7 linked regions of the Homo sapiens genome follow. The protein of the gene in region 6 purifies or fractionates together with the protein of the main gene of each other region. This does not show direct contact. Each region holds a gene or a part of one and is shown on either strand. Other genes may lie near its edges.

The links.
Region 1: the proteins of SLC25A25 (region 6) and MCM3AP purify together in Homo sapiens (co-immunoprecipitation; one large-scale study listed by IntAct). This does not show direct contact.
Region 2: the proteins of SLC25A25 (region 6) and ZNF331 purify together in Homo sapiens (co-immunoprecipitation; one large-scale study listed by IntAct). This does not show direct contact.
Region 3: the proteins of SLC25A25 (region 6) and OMA1 purify together in Homo sapiens (affinity purification with mass spectrometry; one large-scale study listed by BioGRID and IntAct). This does not show direct contact.
Region 4: the proteins of SLC25A25 (region 6) and SERAC1 purify together in Homo sapiens (affinity purification with mass spectrometry; one large-scale study listed by BioGRID and IntAct). This does not show direct contact.
Region 5: the proteins of SLC25A25 (region 6) and ADCK2 purify together in Homo sapiens (affinity purification with mass spectrometry; one large-scale study listed by BioGRID and IntAct). This does not show direct contact.
Region 7: the proteins of SLC25A25 (region 6) and PGS1 purify together in Homo sapiens (affinity purification with mass spectrometry; one large-scale study listed by BioGRID and IntAct). This does not show direct contact.

Annotation. Positions count from the first base shown.
Region 1 is NC_000021.9:46,272,112-46,275,611, forward strand, and holds part of MCM3AP (germinal-center associated nuclear protein), read right to left. Parts: intron 3,215-3,500; coding exon 3,075-3,214; intron 1,475-3,074; coding exon 1,277-1,474; intron 719-1,276; coding exon 450-718; intron 1-449.
Region 2 is NC_000019.10:53,576,145-53,578,456, reverse strand, and holds part of ZNF331 (zinc finger protein 331), read right to left. Parts: intron 1,761-2,312; coding exon 505-1,760; 3' UTR 1-504. UniProt on the Homo sapiens protein: May be involved in transcriptional regulation. May play a role in spermatogenesis.
Region 3 is NC_000001.11:58,501,727-58,505,226, forward strand, and holds part of OMA1 (metalloendopeptidase OMA1, mitochondrial precursor), read right to left. Parts: intron 1-3,500. UniProt on the Homo sapiens protein: Metalloprotease that is part of the quality control system in the inner membrane of mitochondria. Activated in response to various mitochondrial stress, leading to the proteolytic cleavage of target proteins, such as OPA1, UQCC3 and DELE1.
Region 4 is NC_000006.12:158,144,263-158,147,762, forward strand, and holds part of SERAC1 (protein SERAC1), read right to left. Parts: intron 2,652-3,500; coding exon 2,520-2,651; intron 159-2,519; coding exon 37-158; intron 1-36. UniProt on the Homo sapiens protein: Facilitates the transport of serine from the cytosol to the mitochondria by interacting with and stabilizing Sideroflexin-1 (SFXN1), a mitochondrial serine transporter, playing a fundamental role in the one-carbon cycle responsible for the synthesis of nucleotides needed for mitochondrial DNA replication.
Region 5 is NC_000007.14:140,686,445-140,689,944, reverse strand, and holds part of ADCK2 (uncharacterized aarF domain-containing protein kinase 2), read right to left. Parts: intron 2,956-3,500; coding exon 2,704-2,955; intron 349-2,703; coding exon 220-348; intron 1-219. UniProt on the Homo sapiens protein: The function of this protein is not yet clear. It is not known if it has protein kinase activity and what type of substrate it would phosphorylate (Ser, Thr or Tyr).
Region 6 is NC_000009.12:128,102,732-128,106,231, forward strand, and holds part of SLC25A25 (mitochondrial adenyl nucleotide antiporter SLC25A25), read left to right. Parts: intron 1-949; coding exon 950-1,108; intron 1,109-2,997; coding exon 2,998-3,150; intron 3,151-3,418; coding exon 3,419-3,500. UniProt on the Homo sapiens protein: Electroneutral antiporter that most probably mediates the transport of adenyl nucleotides through the inner mitochondrial membrane.
Region 7 is NC_000017.11:78,402,649-78,406,148, reverse strand, and holds part of PGS1 (CDP-diacylglycerol--glycerol-3-phosphate 3-phosphatidyltransferase, mitochondrial precursor), read right to left. Parts: intron 2,582-3,500; coding exon 2,060-2,581; intron 1-2,059. UniProt on the Homo sapiens protein: Functions in the biosynthesis of the anionic phospholipids phosphatidylglycerol and cardiolipin.

The sequences.
Region 1 (3,500 bases), on a different chromosome or scaffold from region 6:
TTCATTCATTCTCACTACCCCATTCTTCGCATTTTTGTTTTACATAATTTTTTCCTCTCTTATTCTGAGATCTTTGACAAAACTATCTGGGAACAGGGAACTGCTAACAACCTTGCAGGGCACCTGGAACTCCCTCTCCTGGTTCACTCACCTGTCTCATGAGGAGGATTCCTTCCTCATTTTCTCACTGGTGAGGAGAAACTATTTTCAGAAATGAACATGTGGGGCCTACGTCAGATGTGCTGGTCCCAGGGCACACCCCCATCGCTCTTCCCCCAGCTCAGCTCAGCCGACTGCAAAGCCAGACCAAGGTCCTCTACTATCATCCCAACATCTGCTACCAGACAGAATGCTGCACTATTGGCTACTGCCACTCCTGAAAGCTCTTCTCCTGTTTAAAGCCTGCCTTTTCAGCCACCTTAGGACAACTTTTGGATGTGAAAATTCACCTTAGGATGTCTCCCTTGTTGAGACTGAGCAGAACATTGTAGCCCTGGAACTCCGCTTCGCTGGCACAGAAGACACCCTTGTTTCTCAGGTCCTGGTACATCTCCTTCAGGCTCTGCAGGCACTTGGTCATGTTCTCATTATTGATCTTGGCATCAAAGGAGGACATGGGCTCCTCACACATGAAGTGGGCACAGTGGATGTGAAACCGGGTGCACTTCTCAATCAGGGACACCGTCAGGGGGTCACAGAGGTGCTGCTGCGTGATATCCTGGCCACAGGCGAGGGGGAGGATCACACACACATTCCCATGCAAAGAGGCAACCGTGAGAAGGATCATGCTACGACCTCAATTTCTCACTTTTCAATTTGAAACAAAGCCCATGATGCACATTTTAATAGGACTTTGTAGTGACTTAAATAAAAGTCCTGGGGTTTGTTTTTTTTTTTGAGACAGAAGCCAGGCTGGAGTGCAGTGGTGTCATCTTGGCTCACCACAACCTCCGCCTCCCAGGTTCAAGCAATTCTGCTTCAGCCGCTCGAGTAGCTGGGACTACAGGCGTGTGCCACCACGCCAAGCTAATTTTTGTATTTTCAGTAGAGATGGGGTTTAACCATGTTGGCCAGGCTGGTCTCAAACTCCTGACCTCAGGTGATCCACCCACCTCGGCCTCCCAGAGTGCTGGGATTACAGGCCTGAGCCACTGCACCTGGCCCACAAAAGTACATTTTTGTTACAGATAAAATATATAACAGAGTAATAAAAATATCAGTTTGACTTTGGAATTTGCGTGGATTTTTTAGCATCCAGGTTGGAGGCAGCCAATACCTTCCGTATGCCACGCGTGCGGTTCCACACGAAGTCATACCAATCCCGCAGGCTGCCCTCCTTCTGGTCCATGATCTGGGTCACCAGGTAGTCCATGGTCCTGCTGAGCACTGGCAAGGGCCGCAGCTCGTGGGGCAGGGGCTCCTCCTGATCCGCCGAGGACCGACTGTACTCTTTCACAGCTGCTGCGTGGTCCACCTAGAGACATGAAGCCGAGACAGGATGCCCATGTGGCATACCTTGGGCCAGGCATAGTTATGCCTGAAAATGAGGGGGAAAATCACATACACACCCACACAAGATCAGTATTTGAGAATATATTTTTTCAACATAAAATTTCTGTTAAAAGGTGACAATCAAAATTCAAAGACAAATAGAGAAATTTGATTTTGGCAAATATGACAAGGAGTTAAGATATGAGTGCGTCATGACAAACAGGAGGAATGTTAAGTGAAGGCACATCTGCTAGCCTCCAAAGCAGAGAGACGGGACAGGGAAGGGCCTCAAGCACTTAAAAGGTCTCAGGCCCGCTCACACACCAGATTAAGTCTACACAGAGCAGAAGTGAAACAGAGACAGGCGGTGAGGACTGCTGAGGACACAGCATCAGGGGCTGGCTGCCCACCTGGGGCCTGGAATTGCATCTCCCACCTCAAAAGGAGGCTGAAGACGTGGCCAAGGGAAGAGGCAGAGATGTACACAGGACAAGGCCCTGGGCATGTGCCTCTCCTGGGGCAGGGGCCCTACAGTGACACGAGTTGCTGGGCTGGGGACCCCGCACCAGGCGAAGGGTGTATAAAGCCACCAGCCAGGAAGAGGAGAAGCCCATAAGCAAAATTCACAAAGTCCAAAAGGATCTATATTGGTGCAGCTTTCTGGGGCAACAATTTGGGAAGATACATGGATAATGTTCAGGAAAGGTCATACCCTCTGATGCAGTAATTTAATTCTTAGGATCTGAAGAAAATAATCTAAATACCAGAGAAGCATTACATACAAGATGCCAAACAATATTACTAATAGAACTAAAAATTTAGAAGCAGCCTATCTACTAATGGTAAAAATGCAGAGTTTTGACAGAGCTACTAATAAAATAATATGCTGTCATTTTTAAATGCTCATAGTTTACCCTAACAAAGGAAAATGTTCATGACATAATTTTAAGTGGAAAAGATACACATAAAATTGTATCTAGAGCATAATCTCGAATGTGTAAAACATAAGCATAGAAACAGACAGGAATAAGATCGTAAAAAGAAAAAAGTTAGCTGGATGTGGTGGCTCACGCCTGTAATCCCAGCACTTTGGGAGGCGGAGGTGGGCAGATGACTTGAGCTTAGGAGTTCGGGACCAGCCTGGGCAACACGGCAAGACCCCATCGCTGCAAAAAATAAAACAGTAACTAGGCGTGGTGGAGCATGCCTGTAATCCCAGCTACTCTGTAAGCTGAGTGAGAGGAGAGGATCACCTGAGCCTGGGAAGTTGAGGCTGTAGTGAGCCATGATTGGACCACTGCACTTCAGCCTAGGTGACAGAGTGAGACCCTGTCTCAAAAAAAAAAAAAAAAAAAAAGAATTTGAAAAACAACTTTATTTAAAATAACTTGCATCTATACCTTATCATGTATAGGTACCAATTACAGAGTGAACATCTCACAATGCAAAACAGCTTAATATGATTGTTAATAGCACAAATACCCAACACTGTCTAAAACAAACACCCAAATCAAGTATGTACAGAAATGACAAAAGCAGCCCCGTCCCCTGCCCACACTCCACGGGGAGATGCAGGGCTCTACCTGGTCAGTCCCTGGGACCACTTCGAACACGCTCAGCTGGCTACGGGTCTCCCGCATGTACCTCTCCTTCTCAGGACACATATCCAGGCAGGTGCCAACAAAAGTCCTCGCTTTGTCCAGATCGGTTCTCTTCACCCGAGCTAAATGACGTCAAGTAAAAGGTAAGAATGTACCACATGGTTAGCACGAACCTACAGAAGTGTATTCTCATAATGATAAAAAGAAATTAAAACTTAAAACACACACACACATTACAAAAGAAAAGAAAAACATTTGTAAAACTCAGAGCCTCAGACAAAGAGGACTTATGGTCTATTATGCCAGGCAGTGGGACATCAAAGCTCCCAAAGACCCGAGTCCACCTCTCTCTAACAGTCACAGACCCTCACTGCAGACTAAGAGAAAGACCCCCGAGTCACCTCTCCA
Region 2 (2,312 bases), on a different chromosome or scaffold from region 6:
TCTCCCAAAATATCTTATTGTCATGTAGATCTTAGCAACCTCAGTATATGATTTTTTTCTTTTCTTTTTTAAGTTGAGAACTTTCACCTTTTCATTTAAAAGGAAGCACTTTGTGGCTTCTCTTTGGCATATCCGAATCACCAGCATCACTACTCCTGCTCTCTGGGGCCACTGTTAAGCAAAGTGAGGACTGCTTGGGCACAGGCACTGTGATGCTGGGATAGTTGATCTGATCACCAAGACGGCTACTAAGTCACTAGCAGGGTGGGTGGCGTATACAGCGTGGATGTGCTGGACCAAGGGATGACTCACATCCCCGGCCGGCTGGAGCCGGACAGCGAGAGATTTCATCACGCTACTCAGAAGGGCACACCATTTGAGACTTAAAATTCTTTATTTCTGGAATTTTCCATTTAATATTTTTGAACTGCAGTTGACTGCAGGTAACAAACTGTGGAAAGCGAAACCATAGATACGAGCGGGCTACTGCGTTCAAAAGGCTCTTCAACTGTTGTGGATCCTCTGATGTTCTCGGAGATGGTTTAGGTGGTTACATGCCTTCCCGCACTCCTTACATTCGTAGGATTTCGCCCCACTGTGCGTTTTCTGATGTTGTGTAAGCTGATGGCCGTGACTAAAGCTCTTCCCACATTCTGTACACCCATAGGGTTTCACCCCGGTATGAATTCTCTCATGTTTCACGAGGCTCGATCCATAAATGAAAGCCTTCCCACACTCCTTACATTTATACGGGGTTTCGCCTGTGTGGATTCTCTCGTGCTGAGTGAGGTGATAGCCACAATTGAAGGCCTTCCCACATTCTGTGCACTTGTACGGCTTCTCGCCCGTATGTATCCTCTCGTGCTTAACGAGGCTCGAACCCCAGCGAAAGGCCTTCCCACACTCCTTACATTCGTGAGGCTTCTCACCGGTGTGGATCTTCTGATGCTGAGTAAGGTAATTGACTCGAGTAAAGGCCTTCCCACATTCTTGACATTCATAGGGTTTCTCACCTGTGTGAATTCTTTTATGCTGAATGAGGCTTGAACCACAAATAAAAGCCTTCCCACAGTCTTTACACTCGTAAGGCTTCTCCCCACTATGAATTCTCTTGTGCTGAATAAGTTTATACACACGGCTAAAGGTCTTCCCACAGTCTTTGCATTCGTAGTCTTTCTCCCCAGTGTGGAATCTCTGGTGCTGAGTGAGCTCATCACCACGCCGAAAGGCCTTTCCACAGTCTTTACATTCATAGGGTTTTTCACCAGTATGAATCCTCTTATGAATAACGAGGCTTGAGCCCCATCGAAAAGCCTTCCCACAGTCTTTACATTCGTAGGGCTTCTCCCCAGTATGAATTTTTTGATGTTGAGTAAGCTGATTGCCCCAACGGAAGGCCTTCTTACATTCTTTACATTCATAAGGTTTCTCACCAGTATGGATTTTCTGATGTTGACTAAGTTGATAGCCACGACTAAAGGCCTTCCCACAGTCCTTACATTCAAAGGAATTCTCCTTATGATGTCTCTGATGTGTTCTAGGAGGGGTGCCTTCTCTAGTAGCAGGTCTTTTGACATAATTGATGATCATCTGATTGACATACCTCCCTCTGGAGCGCTGTGGTCTTTCAAGCGTACCTTCACATATCCAGTTACGGCCAAGGGATTTACTTCTTCTATCTGAATTCCTTTTGGAAGCCCTTATTTCATGAATGTTTTTTTCTGTAGGTAAACTCTTATTTTCATATGCTGACTCCAAATCTGGGAAAAAAGAACATATTTTCTTTCCTTTAGAGGGACACAAGTACAAACGAACCTAACCACAAACCAAAAACTCGTCTAATAGAAATAAAAATTATCCAGTAGAATAAATGTGAATCACCCAGGGCTCTTGTTAAAATGTAGATTCTACTTCTGGTACAATACTAACTGAGAATTCATTGGAGACATCTATTTTAAAGTCAGACATGAAAAAGGTCCCGACAATTAGTCCTATTATTTCCTATTTTGAAGATGAAAACAAGTATTTGTAGATGATGTGATGATATACTTGGAAAACCAAATATAGAAGTACTGTAACAAAACAATATGCAGTTGGATGGCTGTGTGTAAAGCATTCTGAAACTGATACACGTATATGTCAGTAGTATTATTAAAAGTAACTGGTAAAGGGCCGGGAGTGGTGGCTCATCACGCCTGTAATCCCAGCACTTTGGGAGGCCAAGGCAGGCAGATCACCTGAGGTCGGGAGTCCGAGACCAGCTTGACCAACATGGAGAAACCTTGTCTCTACTAAAAATACAAAATTAGCCG
Region 3 (3,500 bases), on a different chromosome or scaffold from region 6:
CATAACTGTGTGCTAAGGACTCATGTGTTCCTCTAAAATTCATATTTTGAAGTCCCAACCTCCAGTGTAACTGTATTTGGAAATAAGGCCTAAAAGGAGGTAACTAAGGTTTAATGAGGTCTGAAGGGTGGGGCCCTGATCGAATAGGATTAGTAGCTTTATAAAAAGAGACATAAGAGAGCTGCCTCTCCCTCCTCACTGCCCCCCACTCCCGCCCCCAGCACCAAATTTATTATCTGTCTCCCTTTACTGCAGAATAAGCTTCATGAGGACAGGGATTTTTGTCTATTTATTTCACATCACCTACAACCTGGCATATAACAGATGACTGATAAATACTTGTTGAATGCATAAAGTGTAAATTTAAAACATTTTAAAAGTTGATAAGCTACAGTAAGAAACAATACATTTTTGTGATGATATGCAAGGGATCCAATAAGAAATAAAAATATACAATCTTCAATAAGCTAAAGTTTAAAAATCAAAATGATCAAAATTTGTGTTCTAATCACAGACCCACAGAATCCTGCTTTCTTGGTTTCCTATTTGCTTTCTTGATTTCCTATGAATCTGATCCAACACAGGCTCTGTCTTCCTCCCACCCATTAAATGTGGAAAATATGCAATACTGTTACTTTGATCTTTTTCTCTAATCACTTCCTACGTGAACTCATCCATTCTCATTGCTTCAACTATCACTTCTTTTTAGATGACTCTGAAACTCTGAAATCTTCATCTCTGGCCTGGATTTGTCTGTGCTCTCTAGTGCTGTATTCTCAACTGCCTTTGAGGGGAACATAACTTCACCATACTGCTAGAGATGTCAAAGGACAGGAACCTTAGGTAGAACATAACATACTCACTAGAGCATGCTACATAAAATATAATTTCAAAATGTAGTAGTAGTATACAGACTCACATAATTCTATATACTGCCTGAGAAACTGCCTTCTTTCATTATATGTCAGAAATTAGACTACAATAATAGGGAATTCCAATCTTTGAGTTATGACTGTATATTCTAATTAACAATATACCCTTGTACTATCAGTTTCACTTCAACCACTGAGTTATTCCCAATATTGCAATAGAGTTTTATTACTTTCAAATTGAATTTAATCACTTGGGGTGGGGAATATAAGAAATTATATGAGGTTTTCAAATTAAGTTTCTGAACTAGGATAGTTTATTTTTAGAAGAAAAATGTCTCACGTCTTTGTCTTCATCATTTGCTCCCAAATAAAATTTGTTTCTCTAGCCATTTTTCTTCCTACTCACTAATCAATTCATTATTATTTTAAAGACATCTCTAAAGCACAGTTTTTACCTCTCCGAAGATGCTCAGTAATTTGATGATGAAATGACAACTCAGAATTTAGGAGTCTTCACATGAAAAGTTGGCTAACAGAATTTATTATCCAATTAAACAAACCACATATTTTTAGAATTTCATTGAGCGAAAATAAAAAGAAAAAAAATTCAAGAGAAAATCATATTGTTATCATTGCTTTAGAGACAGGCCCAGGCCTCCCAGGGTGCGATAAAGTCCCAGGGGCCTTGGATAGCACAAAGGACCCTCTTATAGTCAGTGATCCTCAGTACAAGTCAGTTACTGAAGAAATACATAATGTCCCATGCCTATACTACCCTTTTAAGAGGAATAATTACTACATATTATATCAGGTAAATTTCACTGCTATTTCTTTCTCAAATTTTTTTTTCAAATTAAGAATACAAATGAAATCTAGTTAAGATAGCTGCTGATATAGAGTGAATGTCTGTGTCCTGTCAAAATTTATATGTTGAAATTCCAACTCCCAATGTGATGGTATCAGGAGGTAAGCGCCTTTGGGAGGCGATTGTCATAAGGGTGGAGCCCTCATGAATGGGTTAGCACCCTTTTATAAAAGAGGCTTTTGAGAGCTCCCTTGCCCCTTCTACCATGTGAGGTTACAAGGAGAAGATGGCTGTTTATGAGCTGGGAAGTGGGCCCTCACCAGACACCAAATCTGTTGGAAATTGGATCTAAGATTTCACAGCCTTCCAAACTGTGAGAAGTAAGTTTCTGTTGTTTATAAGCCACCCAGTCTATGGTATTTTTATTATTGCAACCTGAACAAACTAAAATAGGTGTTAAGAAGCCATGCTTGGCTGTCCTCAATGCTCACAAAAGGCACGAAGTATGCCTAAATTACCAACAAATCCTGTCATCACTCCTTTCAAAATATATCCAGAATCTGACTGATTCTTTCCCCATTTTCTGCTACCAGATATCTTGGTCCAAGCCACCATCATCTCCTACCAGGATTATGAGAGTCTCCTAAAAAGTCTCCCTGACTCCACCGTTGCCCCACTAGTCTACTCCACACAATAATGCCAGTGATCACAATAAAACATGAGTCAAATCAAGTCACTCCTCTGCTCAATATCCTCAACTAGCTTCTCCTATCACTTGAAGTGAAAGTCAAGTCCTTACAATGGCTTAGAAGATCCTGCGTGGTCTGGTCCCCTTTCACCTCATCTTGAACTGTTCTTCCCTTCCCTTACTCCATTCAGCCCCAATGTCTTCCTTGCTATTCCTTGAACACATCAAACATACGCTGACTTTAGGTTCTCTGCATCAGCTGCTTCCTCAGCCTAAAAGGCTCTCTCTCCCTCCACACAGCTAAAGGACTTGCTCCCGTGCTTCCTTCCGGATTCTGATTAGTGAGGCCTTCCTTGACAACCGAACATAGACTAGTACCCCTTCTCTGCTGCCCACCCCTCTCTAATACCTTTAATCTGCTTTATTTTTTCCCAAGGTACTTATTATTGCTTGGCATACTATATGTTTGTTTCTTATTTGCATTACCTAACTAGAATGTTAACTCCAAGAAAACAGACTGTTTTGTTCCTTGCTCATTCCCCAGCAATAGAACACAGAATAGTAGATTAATCAATAAGTATCAATAAATATCGATCTACCTAATGAATGAATAAATCTTGCACTAGAGTTTCTTATCCCAAACTAGAAGCAGATTCATCTTCCTTCAAACTGCATACCGTTTTTATTTTTCTTATGATAAATCATATCCTTGTACTAATAATCATTTTTTATTTATCTTAGCATCCTGTAAATATCAAGAACCATATCTTATTCCTCTTTGTATCCCCCACATCTAGCATCATTTCTTTCTTTTAAGAGGTACTCCGTATTTGTTGGGCTGAATTTGAAGTCATACTGAAAGATACTTCTTTTTTTTTTTTGAGACAGAGTCTCACCCTGTCGCTGACTAGAGTGCAGTGGCACGATCTCGGCTCACTACAACTTCTGCCTCCAGGGTTCAAGCGATTCCCCTGCCTCAATCTCCCGAGTAGCTGGGATTACAGGCGCATGCCACCACGCCCGCCTAATTTTGTATTTTCAGTAGAGACAGGGTTTCACCCCGTTGGCCAGGCTGGTCTCGAACTCCTGACCTCAGGTGATCCACCCACCTCAGCCTCCCAAAATGCTGGGATAA
Region 4 (3,500 bases), on a different chromosome or scaffold from region 6:
CACTCTCTAAATTACTATTATTATTGTTTTACTTACTTCTTTTAAAGATGGCAAAGGAGGTGGTAGGAGAAAAAAGCGAAGATCACTCTCTTCGCTTCGTGCCAAACCAATAAGAGTTTTCGGATCACAGGCTTGAGCAATTATCCTATACTGGTAATCTATTGAAAAAGCATTTTCTTTTGTTAATACCAAAACTAGCTGACAGATGTCATAAAGATTAACTGAACAAACAACTTGAAAGCACTCTAATTTTTAAACTGCTCTGCAAATTTGTAATCCAAAATTTCCCAAGTGCAACTACATTTACAACACCTATAAGCTAGATACGTTTCCAGGACTGATCTCACAATTCTCCTCAACATATATATGGAGACCGGGTCACAGCCTAACTTTTTGGAAAAAAGGAAGCTCAAAGGTGGAAACTGGTAAGTCAGAACCAATTTAACTTCTTTTTAAAACAATTCCAGCATTCAAAAGATGTTCTGACCACTACTCAAAACACATGAGGTGGCATTTAAGCCTACTGCTCCGTGGTGATGATATGGTGCTTTGGTATTCATAGTGTCCATGAATATTTAGTCTGCAGTTCCAGATAGCAGTACTTTGAATTAAACATGCCATTCTTTATATATCAAAAACAAAATTCCAACCATGAAAGCAAACATTATTTTCAATAATGGCAGTTTATAACCTGGGGTTGGCCAGTCGCCATGGTTCAGGCCTGTAATACCAGCACTTTGGGAAGCCGAGGCGGGCGGATCATTTGAGGTCAGGAGTTCAAGACCAGCCTGGCCAACATGGTGAAACCCTGTCTCTACTAAAAATACAAAAATTAGCCAGGCGTGGTGGCAGGCACCTGTAACCCCAGCTATTCGGGAGGCTGAGGCAGGAAAATAGCTTGAACCCAGGAGACGGAGGTTGTAGTGAGCCAAGGTCACACCACTATACTTCAGCCTGGGTGACAGAACAAGACTGTCTCAAAAAACAATAATAATAATAACCTGGGTGAGTACTTCTGGATCAAGTGGGGAACTTTTCCAAAATCTGTGGGCCAGGGCACTTCCTCTGATTTCTCTGATACAATAAGTCTGGAATGGAGCCCTGGAAGGCAAATTTTGAAAAATATTTCTATTCTAAATCTCCACCAACATTAAGTAAGCTTATACTTACATTATAAATTATAATTATAGCCACCAACCAATTAACAAATTAATTTGCAGAGATCTCATTCTGAGCTTAACTTTTCTTTGAGAATTTTTCTTTTTTTTTTTTTTTTTTGAGACAGTTTTGCTCTGTTGTCCAGGCTGGAGTGGAGTGGTACAATCTTGGCTCACTAACAACTCCACCTCGTGGGTTCGCAATTCTTGTGCCTCAGCCTCCCAAGTAGCTGAGATTACAAGCACACGTCACCATGCCCAGCTAAATTTTTTCTATTTTTTTAGTAGAGACAGGGTTTTGCCATGTTAGCCAGGCTGGTCTTGAACTCCTGGCCTCAAGTGACCCGCCTTCCTCAGCCTCCCAAAGTGCTGGGATTACAGGTGTGAGCCACCATGCCTGGCTGAGAAAATTATTTTTTTCTACTTTTCCCATTTTTACAAGACAGCTCTACTAACAAATTATAGTTTTATCCATGTACTATAACCAGAGAAGATATGAGTTCTTTTAAAAATATTTTTATTGTAAAATTTGTGATTTTTAAACACAATTACATATTTCAAATAGTCCATTAAAAATGATATACACAAATACAAATTGGGTACATTCGACTATTAGTATTAGAGCCAAGTAGATTGTAAAAGTAAAAGCAAACATAATTGTATGGTGTAGCAAGCAATTAAATGTACTTCATTAAATAGAAACCAAAAGAAAACTCAAGTACATTAGGTAACTATCAGAATCAAGAGTTGCTCTCAAAGAAGTATGTAACCAAATAAAACTTTGTTCTGGTAGAAAGTTACACAAATATATATACCTCATTTTTGAGCTTATTCTTACCAAACACATTTGACTACCAGTTCAGCAGGCTTTCTACTTTCCGTATCACTGAAGCTTCTTAAAATTTTTCAAATACTTTCTATATATACTAACACTGCCTGAATTATTTTCCTTCCTGAATCTCACTCCCACTCCCTTGTCTTTTTTTTTTTTTTTTTTTTTTTTTTTTGAGATGGAGTCTCGCTCTGTTGCCCAGGCTGGAGTGCAGTGGCGCAATCTCGGCTCACTGCAAGCTCTGCCTCCTGGGTTCACGCCATTCTCCTGCTTCAGCCTCTCGAGTAGCTGGGACTACAGACGCCCGCCACCATGCCTGGCTAATTTTTTTGTATTTTTAGTAGAGACGGGGTTTCACCATGTTAGCCAGGGTGGGTCTTGAACTCCTGACCTTGTGATCCAACCAGCGTGGCCTCCCAAAGTGCTGGGATTACAGGCGTGAGCCACCGCACCTGGCCACTCCCTTGTCTTTTATGTCAGCAATCAAGAGCCAGCTGAAGGCATGCCACCTGTTCAGGTAGTCTCATTACCATGCCAGTGATGGGTCTCCGACATTTCCCGCACAGCCTCGAGTCGCGTGGTTTTGTCATCTGACTTGCTCTTCCGTAGGAGCAGCCACACAGCACACTCATGATCTTCTATATCAACTGTACTAAAAGGATCTTTGCAAAAAGAAAAAGCCAAGACAATGTGAAAAGTTAAGATAATACTTTTATCTTCACTTTAAGATGGTAATTTATAAACACTGAAATCTACAATTGGAGAGTTAAATCCATATATATAGGTATTGATAAAAACTAATATTATTTGTTCTCAATTCTGTCATATTATCTTTTACAGTTATTATGAATACTGTGTGTGCTTTTTTTTGGATGGGGGGGCAGGGGTCAGTTTTGTTTTGTTTTTTGAGACAGTCTCGCTCTGTTACCCAGGCTGGAGTGCAGTGACACAATCGTGGCTCACTGCAGCTTCGACCTCTTGGGCTCAAACAATCCTCCCACCTCAGCCTCCTGAGTAGCTGAGATCACAGGGGTATACCATCAGGCCCAGCTAATCTTTTTTTTTTTTTCTAGAGACAGGGACTCAAGAAATTGCCCAGGCTCAATGTGTGTGCTTTTGTTTTGTATATTCTGGTGTCTTTCATATGTGGTCATTTTTAAAATCTTTTTCTCCCCAAAACTTTTTCAAAAAGATCAAATATATGAAAGAAATTAATAAGTTAACATAGGCTGGGCGAGGTGGCTCACACCTGTAATCCCAGCACTTTGGGAGGCCGAGGCAGGCGGATCACGAGGTCAGGAGATCCAGACCATCCTGGCTAACACGGTGAAACCCTGTCTCTACTAAAAATACAAAAAAAAAAAAAAAATTAGCTGGGTGTGGTGGCGGGCGCCTGCAGTCCCAGCTACTCGGGAGGCTGAGGCAGGAGAATGGCGTGAACCCGGGAGGCAGAGCTTGCAGTGAGCAGAGATCGCGCCACTGCACTCCAGCCTGGGTGACAGAGAAGGCTC
Region 5 (3,500 bases), on a different chromosome or scaffold from region 6:
GGAAGGAGCTGCAGCCTCCTAAGTGGCACCGCACAAGGAGGCCCCCTTGAGCACAACGGACTTCACTGGGGCTCCTCATGCCTGGAAGATGTGGGGTGGTTCTTTTTCTGCTTTAAAACTCACACCCCTCATAAAGAGGTCTCCCTTAGACCCAGGATCTGCTCTGCCCCAGGCCAGGTATGGACTCCCCAGCCCCTGTTCCGCAAGTGACCTGCCCACCTTCTCCAGGGTGATGGTGTTCTTCCTGGCCTGGGTCACCAGCATGGCCATCTCGGTTTTGAACCCCTCCACGTCCCTGCACTCGCTGGCCCGGGCATGATGCAGGATCAGCTCAGCCACTCTCTGGCCCTGGAAAATGCAACGGAAAAGGGACTTGGAGTGGAGCTAGCATAAACCTGGATGCGGTGCCCAAGCGTCTTTCTCATCTCAGCAGCTCCACCCTGACTTTTCTGGCATCTTGCTTTTGGCTCTTCCTCCTCGGGCTGTGACCTTTTCCCTTTGCCCATACCTATAGGGAGGAATGCCCCCACCCCCGCTGCACTGCGCCTCAGTGCTTAACCTTGGCCCAGGGGACACTTTCAAACCAGCTGCAGGCCCCAGCTTTGGGTTTGCCCTCTCAGAGGCAGGGACTGCCCTGCATTTTGCTGTTTAAAAAAAAAAAATTTTTTTTTAAAAAGAGCCAGATGCAGTGGCTCACACATGTAATCCCAGCATTTTAGGAGGCCGAGGCAGGTGGATCACCTGAGATCAGGAGTTCAAGACCAGCCTGACCAACATGATGAAACCCCATCTCTACTAAAAATACAAAAATTAGCCGGGCATGGTGGTGGGTACCTGTAATCCCAGCTACCTGGGAGGCTGAGGCAGGAGAATCACTTGAACCCGGGAGGTAGAGGTTGCAGTGAGCTGAGATCGTACCACTGCACTCCAGCCCAGGGAACAGAGTGAGATTCCATCTCAAAAAAAAAAAATTAATTAATTAATTTTTAAAAAAAACAGTTCTCTTTTTCCCAGTGTTTTTCTTGCTGGAGAATTCTTTGCCAGCCGGCCAGAGGGCCTCCTCAGAGTCACCCACGACGTAGTGCTTTCAATTGACTCTGCAGAGGCCTTGCCGAATGCCTTTTCTCTAAATAATCATTCTCAACCACTGCAGACCCTCAGAATCACAGGGGAGGCTGCAAAAACTACTCATGTCCCCACATCGGACGTGCCAGCATGCTGTGCCCCACTTAGAGGCTGTGTTCTCTATGCTGTCGCATCTCACCAGCCTGCCACCTTGCAGCAGGTAGCACACACCAGGGGCAGCCATTATCTGGTCAAGAAGCCAGCATTCCTGCTGACCAGCTGGATGTTTGCTGGAGAAGGACCAGAAACTACTAACACGAAACAGCACTTGTTTCTTCCCACAGTCCCAAACCATCTGCCACTCAGAACTGGCCTGATTTGCACCCAGCACCTGCTAACAGAAAGCCCCTTAAGGGCAGCCTCGCCTCCTGTCCTCCTGCCTCCCTCCACTCGTTTCTGGCACACTGGCAAGTGTGAGCATTGACAAGAATGACCGGGCTAAGGAGACCTGTCCTGTTTCAAGACAGAGACATTCTGGCTGGGTGCAGTGGCTCACACCTGTAATCCCAGCACCTTGGGAGGCTGAGGCAGGTGGATCACCTGAGGTCAGAAGTTCAAGATCAGCCTGGCCAACATGGTGAAACCCCATCTCTACTAAAAATACAAAAAGTGGCCGGGCATGGTGGCATGTGCCTGTAATCCCTGCTACTCAGGAGGCGTGGCAGGAGAATTGCTTGAATCCAGGAGGTGAATGTTGCAGTGAGCTGAGATCACGCCAAGGCACTCCAGCCTGGGTGACAGAGCGAGACTCTGTCTCAAAAAAAAAAAAAAGACAGAGACAGAGGCATTCCCCAGAGTATAAAAGATTCACCCCCTGCCCAGCCTGTAGTCCTAGCTACTCAGGAGGCTGAGATGGGAGGATGGCTTGAGGCCAAGGCAGCCTGCGCAATATAGCAAAACCCATCTCCATTAATTTTTTGAAACTTTAAAAAAAAAAAAAAAAAACTAAGATCTCACTCTGTCACCCAGGCTGCAGTAGAGCAGTGCAATCCTAGCTCACCACAGCCCCAAACTCCTGAGCTCAAGTGATTCTCCCACCTCAGCCTCCCAAGTAGCTGGGACCACAGGCGCACACCACCAAGCCTGGCTTTTTCTTTTTTTTTTTTGAAATGGAGTCTCACTCTTTCACCCAGGCTGGAGTGAAGTGGCACAATCTCAGCTCACTGCGACCTATGCCCCCCAGGTTCAATGAATTCTCCTGCCTCAGCCTCCCAAGTAACTGGGATTACAGGTACACACCACCATGCCTGGCTAATTTTATATTTTTAGTAGAGACAGGATTTCACCGTGTTGGCCAGGCTGGTCTCGAACCCCTGACCTCAGGTGATCCACCCGCCTTGGCCTCCCAAAGTGCTGAGATTACAGGCGTGAACCACTGTGCCTGGCCTATTTTCTTATTTTTTATAGAGACAGGGTCTCACTATGTTGCTCAGGCTGGCCTTGAACTCCTGGGCTCAAGCAATCCTCCCCGCTCAGGCTTCCAAAGTGCTGGGATTACAGGTCTGAGCCACCATGCTTCACCAGCTCTTTTAATTAAAAAAAATTCACCCCAACTTCTGTGGTCCCAGTGCGTCTCACCTGCCCCATCACCACAGCCATGAAAACTGCCCGGAAATTCCTCAGGTCAGGGGCCTGCAGCTCCGCCACAATGCCAGCATCCAGCAGCACCAGTCGCAGCGGGCAGAGGGAAGATGGCACGGCCACCACCAGAGTGTCACAGATGTCCGCCTGCTGCAGCTGCGCCTCCTGACTCGAGGACAGGCCGTTGGCACCCTGAACCAGGATGTTTCCAGGGTGAAGGTCTGCATGGACAAAGTTATCCACAAATATCTGGAAGGAGATCACAATGCTCATGAGTGAGTCGCCCCTAGAGCACCACCAACCTACAGAGAAAGAAAGTTGCCAGGTGACAATAAGCTCCCAGCACTCTATCACAGCCGCAAAGAGGTGCATGTCCTATAGACCCTTCTTGTTTAGATGTCAACTCAGAATTTGTACAAGGATGAGCTAAGTTAAAGTTTTCAAGAGAAAAATTATTTTCAAAGTAAAAAGCATTTTTAAAAGATTATAAAGGGGCCGGTCTCAGTGGCTTTACACCTATAATCCCAGCACTTTGGGAGGCCAACGAAGGAGGGTCACTTGAGCCCAGGAGTTCAAGGTTACACAGAGCTATGATCATGCCACTGCCCTCCAGCCTGGGTGACACAGCAGGACCCTGTCTTGTAAAAATAAATAAATAAGGCCGGGTGTGGTGGCTCACGCCTATAATCCAACACTTTGGGAGGCTGAGGTGGGCGGATCACTTGAGGTCAGGAGTTAAAGACCAGCCTGGCCAACAAGGTGAAACCTCGTCTCTACCAAAAATACAAAAATTA
Region 6 (3,500 bases):
CATGCTCCCTGCTCCCTGCTCCTCATGGGCCACTTCAAATACCCCTTCCCATGATGCTGTCTGTTCTCCCAAAGCTGGTATGAGCCTTCCCCCCGGTGGGAGGGGGCTGGGGCAGAAGCTACTCTACAGAGAACACCTAGGCAGAGCTGTGAGGTGTCCCCACGGTCACACATTTGCTGCCCTCTCGCCCCCGTCCACTGTGGTTTCATGTTCAGAAATGTGAGTCTGTGCTGGTCTCTGCCCCGAGCCCTTCATGCTTGGCGTGTCCCTCTCTGAGTCCTGGTGTGCAGTCCTGTCCCTCTGGACCATCCGCTCCAGGAGGGGAGGCCAGAGGCGCTCCTCATCTGCCTCTCGCAGTGCCAGGCCAGGGCTTGTTAGGTGAGATTAAATGGACAGCTCCAGGGGTGGGAGTAGCTGGCCCAGAGCTCTGGCCTTTAGCCCTGGGATCAGAGCAGAGGTGGCTCTGATCAGCCCGGATGTCACCCGGAGAAAGGTTACGCAGGCAGCGAGCCCTCGTGTTTGCTGAGGCGTTGCATAATGTTCTGCCAGCGTGATCTGGTTACACGTGAGATCTCAGACGGCTCTCACCCCGGCCTGATCCCTTCAGCGCAGCCAGCCTGGCAATCTCACACAGGCCTGTGAGCTGTTCTTGCAGTAGCTCCCTGGCAGCATTGGAAAGGGCCGGTGAATGGTTTTCTAACCGGCACCTCCCGGCTGTGTTCAGCTGAGGTTCTATACCTGTGCCTCTCCAGGACCCCAGCAGGGGTGAGAGCTCTGCTACCTTCAGAGTGAAGGGAAAGACCCCAGCCCGCTTCCCACCCAGAGTCCTTGGCCTTCTCCCTGTCCTGTGGTCCCTGGCCTGGAGCCGTGCTAGAGGGTAGACGGCGACAGGTGCCAGCAGCCTTGCCCCAAGGGTCCTGAGTCAGGCTTGTGCCATCTTTCCTCACAGATCTTTGATGTGGGTGAGAATCTAACGGTCCCGGATGAGTTCACAGTGGAGGAGAGGCAGACGGGGATGTGGTGGAGACACCTGGTGGCAGGAGGTGGGGCAGGGGCCGTATCCAGAACCTGCACGGCCCCCCTGGACAGGCTCAAGGTGCTCATGCAGGTATGTAGGGAAAAGGCCCCAGACCCCTGGGGGGCCAGTTTCCACCTGGGGGATGCTGCTTGGCTAGTTTTCCCTTTCTCTGGCTGGTGCCTGCTTTGGGCCCAAACTTTTCTAACCCAATAAATTAGACTAGAATTATTGCTCAGACAGGGGGTACCAAAATGTCACTGTAGGTGACATTTTGTGCAGAGCGGATCTAATTTTATCTGAGGCATCACATTACAGGGGCATAATGTGGACAGGTGAAGCTAGCGAGACTGGGGTGAGGCAGGAACCAATTTCTGTAAGTACGTTTTGTGTACGTTACCCCACACTGGGGCCAGCAGAGCCTCACCTGACCCAGATGCCAATGGGAAGCCACGCCATTACCTTGGCCAGGTACGCAAATCCATGTCCACACAGCAGAGATAAGCTGGGCTGATGTCAAGGCAGAATTGTGAAACTGACCCACACAACGACACTGGTGGACTTTGATGTCTGAATGGTGACTGGCCACCACTTGTCCCCTTGCCCGTACCTAGTACTTCTTGTGCCAGGAGCCCGGCTTGGAAGAGCTGCCTCCTTTCTCTCCCCAGTCTGCCTTGCTGGGCCTCCCTGTGTTGCACAGAGACAAAGGAAGCAGGTGGTTCAGGGCAGAATGCCTCGGGCTTGGACTCTGCCCAGGGCACCACCACAGCTGCCTCCCTCCCTCTTGTGGCCTTGAGCAAACCCCTTTCCCTCCCAGGACTTCCCCTCCTCTGTGAAAATAGGGGCTTGAACAACTGCCTCATCCTTTTGTTTTTTTAGCAGAATTATCAGGAATGTTGTAGAGATTGAAAGCAGGCCTTGGGTGAAATCAAATGCCTGGCGTGTGCCTTTAAACCAGCATGGGTGGGGCAGCAGGAGAGAGAGGTTGGCTGTGGTTTGATCATTGTCTAAGCTGAGTGGGCATTCATTCTATTTTTTAATATGTCTTAAGTTTTTTTAATAATGAAAAACTTTGATTTTTAAAAATTATTATTATTATTATTATTATTATTATTATTATTATATTTTTTGAGACAGTCTCGCTCTGTCACCCAGGCTAGAGTACAGTGGTATGATCTCAGCTCACTGCAACCTCCCTCACTGGGTTCAAGCAATTCTACAGCCTCAGCCTCCCTAGTAGCTGGGATTATTACAGGCATGCGCTATCACCCCAGGCTAATTTTTGTATTTTTAGTAGAGACGAGGTTTCATCATGTTGGCCAGGCTGGTCTCACACTCCTCACCTCATGTGATCTGCCCACCTCGGCCTCCCAAAGTGCTGGGATTACAGATGTGAGCCAACACTCCCGGCCTTTTTTTTTTTTTTTTTTTTTTTTTTTTCTAAAATAGAGTCTCGCTCTGTCGCCCAGGCTGGAGTACAGGGGCGCGATCTTGGCTCACTGCAACCTCCACCTCCCGGATTCAAGCGATTCTCCTGCCTTAGCCTCCCAAGTAGCTGGGATTACTGGTGCCTGCCACCACGCCCGGCTAACTTTTGTATTTTTAGTAGAGACGGGGTTTCACCATGTTGGCTGGGCTGGTCTCGAACTCCTGAACTCAAGTGATCCACCTGCCTCAGCCTCCCAAAGTGCTGGGATTACAGGCATGAGCCACCGCGCCCAGCCTTGATTTTTTTTTTAAGTCATCTTTATGGAGATGTTCAGGACAAGGCTGGCAACCAGCAGATACCCAGTACGATGGAGCTGAGCCTCACTTAGCCGTGTTGGGTTACTTTGGGCTCATGATTCCAAGCTTGTCTTCAAAATGCACGGAAGAAAGGGCCTTCCCTTTGGCCGCAGCCGGTTGGCCAGCAGAGGCTCTTGGCCGGGTGAGGCAGCCTGTGGCCCCCCGGGTCCGTCTGACTGTTCGGTCCTCCCTCCCAGGTCCATGCCTCCCGCAGCAACAACATGGGCATCGTTGGTGGCTTCACTCAGATGATTCGAGAAGGAGGGGCCAGGTCACTCTGGCGGGGCAATGGCATCAACGTCCTCAAAATTGCCCCCGAATCAGCCATCAAATTCATGGCCTATGAGCAGGTGAGGACCCAGCTCCTCAGGAGGGTCACCGGCCAGTGGCTACTCACTGCCTGGACTTGCTGGCTTTCCCTGGGCTGAGCTCCCTGACACTTGGAGCCAGCCGTGGTACCCCAGGGACAGCAGGGCGAGGCAGGAGGCCCAGGCTCACCACGAGTTCCTTACATTTCTGGGTAGCATAAAATGTGCCGGGGACTCCTGGAAGGGAGGGGCAGCAGCAGGTGCCCCAACCTCTGGGTATATCAGGTGGTTTGTTTGTTCCTGGTTCTAGATCAAGCGCCTTGTTGGTAGTGACCAGGAGACTCTGAGGATTCACGAGAGGCTTGTGGCAGGGTCCTTGGCAGGGGCCATCG
Region 7 (3,500 bases), on a different chromosome or scaffold from region 6:
GAAACAGGGTTTCACCGTGTTAGCCAGAATGGTCTGGATCTCCTGACCTCATGATCTGCCTGCCTCAGCCTCCTAAAGTGCTGGGATTACAGGCGTGAGCCACCGCGCCTGGCCGGCTTCAGTATTTCTTACAACGCATCCCCCAATTGAAAAACATTGGTTTAAAGAAAACAAAAACAAAAACAAACCACCTGAGCACCGGAAGATGCCTCGAGTCTCAACAACACAGCTGTGTGCCTACTGCAGTCCACAGCCTAGATTCCCCATCCATGGAGGCCCCCCACTCACTCAGCTCTTCCGAAAGCCACTAGAACCAGGACAAGAGAAGGAGCAAAACAGGCCTCTGGACTGCCCAGGGAGAAGCCAGAAAAGCCGTGGGATGTACTCATGGCACAGGGGCCTCCAGGCACCATTTCCCCTTCTCTAGACAGACTAGCTCCAGGATTGGGGGTCCCCAGCGTCAGAAAGGAGTCATGGTCCCGCTGCTAGAGGCGGGCACCCTCCCAGCATTAAGAGGCCATGCAGTAAGCCCACTGCTAAGCACAGGGTTTCCAGCATGTTATACCCATGTCTTAGAGAGCTGCCCCTGGGATTCTGCCCCATTTCGGCTGCTCCGCCAGATGCCTGAGAGGGATAAACATGCATTGCAGAGTGTGACCCTCTTCCTACCACCCCCACCAGCAAGACTGTGCACAGAGCCTCCATTTCCTCAGCTATGGGGAAAAAAGGCAGACATTGGCATATAGGGAAAAAAACAATAGCAATAGTGAGGAAAAGACAAGAAAACTGGGCTGCTGATGCCAAAACAAATGATCCCTAATGAATCTTCTTTCTCCCTGAGAAAGGCATTGCCAGCCGGGCGCAGTGGCTCACGCCTGTAATCCCAGCACTGTGGAAGGCTGAGACAAGTGGCTCACAAGGTCAGGCATTCGAGACCAGCCTGGCCAACATGGTGGAACCCCATCTCTACTAAAAATACAAAAATTAGCCAGGCGTAATGGTGCATGCCTGTAATCTCAGCTACTAGGGAGGCTGAGGCACAAGAATCATTTGAACCCGGGAGGCAGAGGTAGCAGTGAGCTGAGATCGTGCCACTGCACTCCAGCCTGGGCAACAGAGCAAGACTCTGTCTCAAAAAAAAAAAAAGTTGCCAACAAGCAGGAACTCTGACAATCAACACAAGGCTAAGGGCCGGGCGTGGTGGCTCACACCTGTAATCCCAGCACTTTGGGAGGCCAAGGCAGGTGGATCACCTCAAGTCAGGAGTTCAAGGCCAGCCTGACCAACATGGAGAAACCCAATCTCTACTAAAAATAAAAAATTAGTCAGGCGTGGTGGTACAGGCCTGTAATCCCATCTACTCGGAAGGCTGAGGCAGGAGAATCGCTTGAACCCAGGAGGAGGAGGTTGCGGTGAGCCAAGATCGCACCATTGCACTCCAGCCTGAGCGACAAGAGTGACATTCCATCTCACAGCTAAGGCATGTTCCTCTCCATCTCTTAGGAGAGGTTATGTCACCACATCTTTACCACAGCCACCAAATAATGTGACCATATACAGTCTTTGATGCATAAAAGAGACGGATTTTACACAACTGAAATTCACTTCTTGGGAGGCAAGGCAGGCAGACCACTTGAGCTCCGGAGTTCAAAACCAGCCTGGGCAACATGGTAAAATCCCATCTCTACAAAAATACAAAAATTAGCCAGACATGGTGGCACGCGCCTGTAGTCCCAGCTACTCAGGAGGCTACGGTGGGAGGACTGCTTGAACCGGGAAGTGGAGGTTGCGGTGAACTGAGATCATGCTACTGCAGTCCAGCCTGGGAAACAGAGCAAGACTGTCACAAAAAAAAAAAAAAAAAAAAAATTCCCTTGAGGAGATGAATGCTCGCCTCTCCCCAAGTCATGGGACAGCTATGATGTGCCTGCAAGGGCTGCTGGGAAGGTAGGAAGGGAGAAGTACAGCACTCTAACAGGTAGGCGCCAGGGCTCCCCACCCCCTGCCCATGTTTGTGGCTGTCCCACACTGGAACGTCCTCCAGCCAGCCGCTGCGCACCTTTGGCGTGGAACGTCCAGCCCCTCCGCCAGTACTCCTGAAGCTGGACCCGCTCCTGCTGTCCCAGGCTGCACACCTCACTGAAGAACTGTCGCTCGATGTGCACATAGGCCGCTGGGATGGCGCCGGCCACCCCCTTGGCCCCAAAGAAGCCATTCACCTCTGGTGAGGCCAGCAGGATCTGGTACTCAGCCCGAGTGCCCAAGACCAGGTCCATGTAGGCCTGGGTCAGGTTGAAATAGCCAGTGGTGAGGTAGACCTTTGCCCCGCGCTCCGCCTCAGTCAACAGGGTCTCAGTGACAATCTCATCGATTTGAATCTCGAAGGGCTTCATCTGAATCAGCGGATAAATCCAGGTGTCAGGGGCTGGTCTGCGATCCCCAGCAGCTGCTGCATCTTCCTGGGTCAAAAGAGAGTTGCTGTGGAAGGTCTGGGCATGCAGCATCTGCTGGCGGGTCCTGGCTGAGTTGATCACATCCATGACCCTCTTATTGGCTGCCTTGCAGTACTCGGCCCGGTCCCCTGGGGAAGACGTGAAAGAAGAGTGAAGGGAAGAGAAATGGAGGGTCTGGACTCTGCCCAGCTCAGGGGACAGGGCATGTGATAGGCAAGTGCAGACGCTACAACTGGATGTTCACTGAACACTCGCTGAGTGGGCCCAGGACCCCAAGCCCAGAGCGAGGCTCCTCTGGGGATATAGTTTGCCCAAGACAAGGGCCTGGTCCACAGTAGCCCACACTCAGGCAGAAGTGAAAGGCATGTCGACGTATCATTCCAATTACAAACAAGCTCAAAACCAGGCAAGACAAACTGACAGGGAGAGAAATCAGGATAGTGGTTACCTTTGGGATAATTCCTTGGGGGGGACATACGGGGGGCCTCCAGGAAGCAGGTCCACTAGCAGCAGGTTCATGGCTGTACACCTGCGACTGGTGCTCGGGGTGCATGTTCTACTTCAATAAGGAAGCTCAGTCAAATAAAGACATGCAAGTATAACCAAAAAAGGAGCATGCGTATTCCACAGATGGGGTCACAGGGCAAGCCATCACCTTGGATAAGCACATCACCATGTGGGAAAGCTTCCCACAGCAGTGACAGTGCCTGAGAGAGAGGAAGAACGGGCAGGCTCAGGCTCTGCATGGGGTGCCTTTTGTATTCGGACAAGACACTGGTGACAGGTGACCATGCAGACACACTGAAGGGAAAGATGCTATTATCAGACAAGACAAAGCTGAAAATTAATGAGTTAAGCATCCAACTCAGGAAGACAGGGGAAAGAAACAACAGAATAAAACCAAGAATACAGTATAGGGAAGCAAAAAATAAAAATAAGAACAGGCCGGGCACAGTGGCTCACGCCTATAATCCCAGCACAGCACTTACGGAGGCAGGAGCGGGCAGATCACCTGAGGCCAGGAGTTTGAGACCAGCCTGACCAACA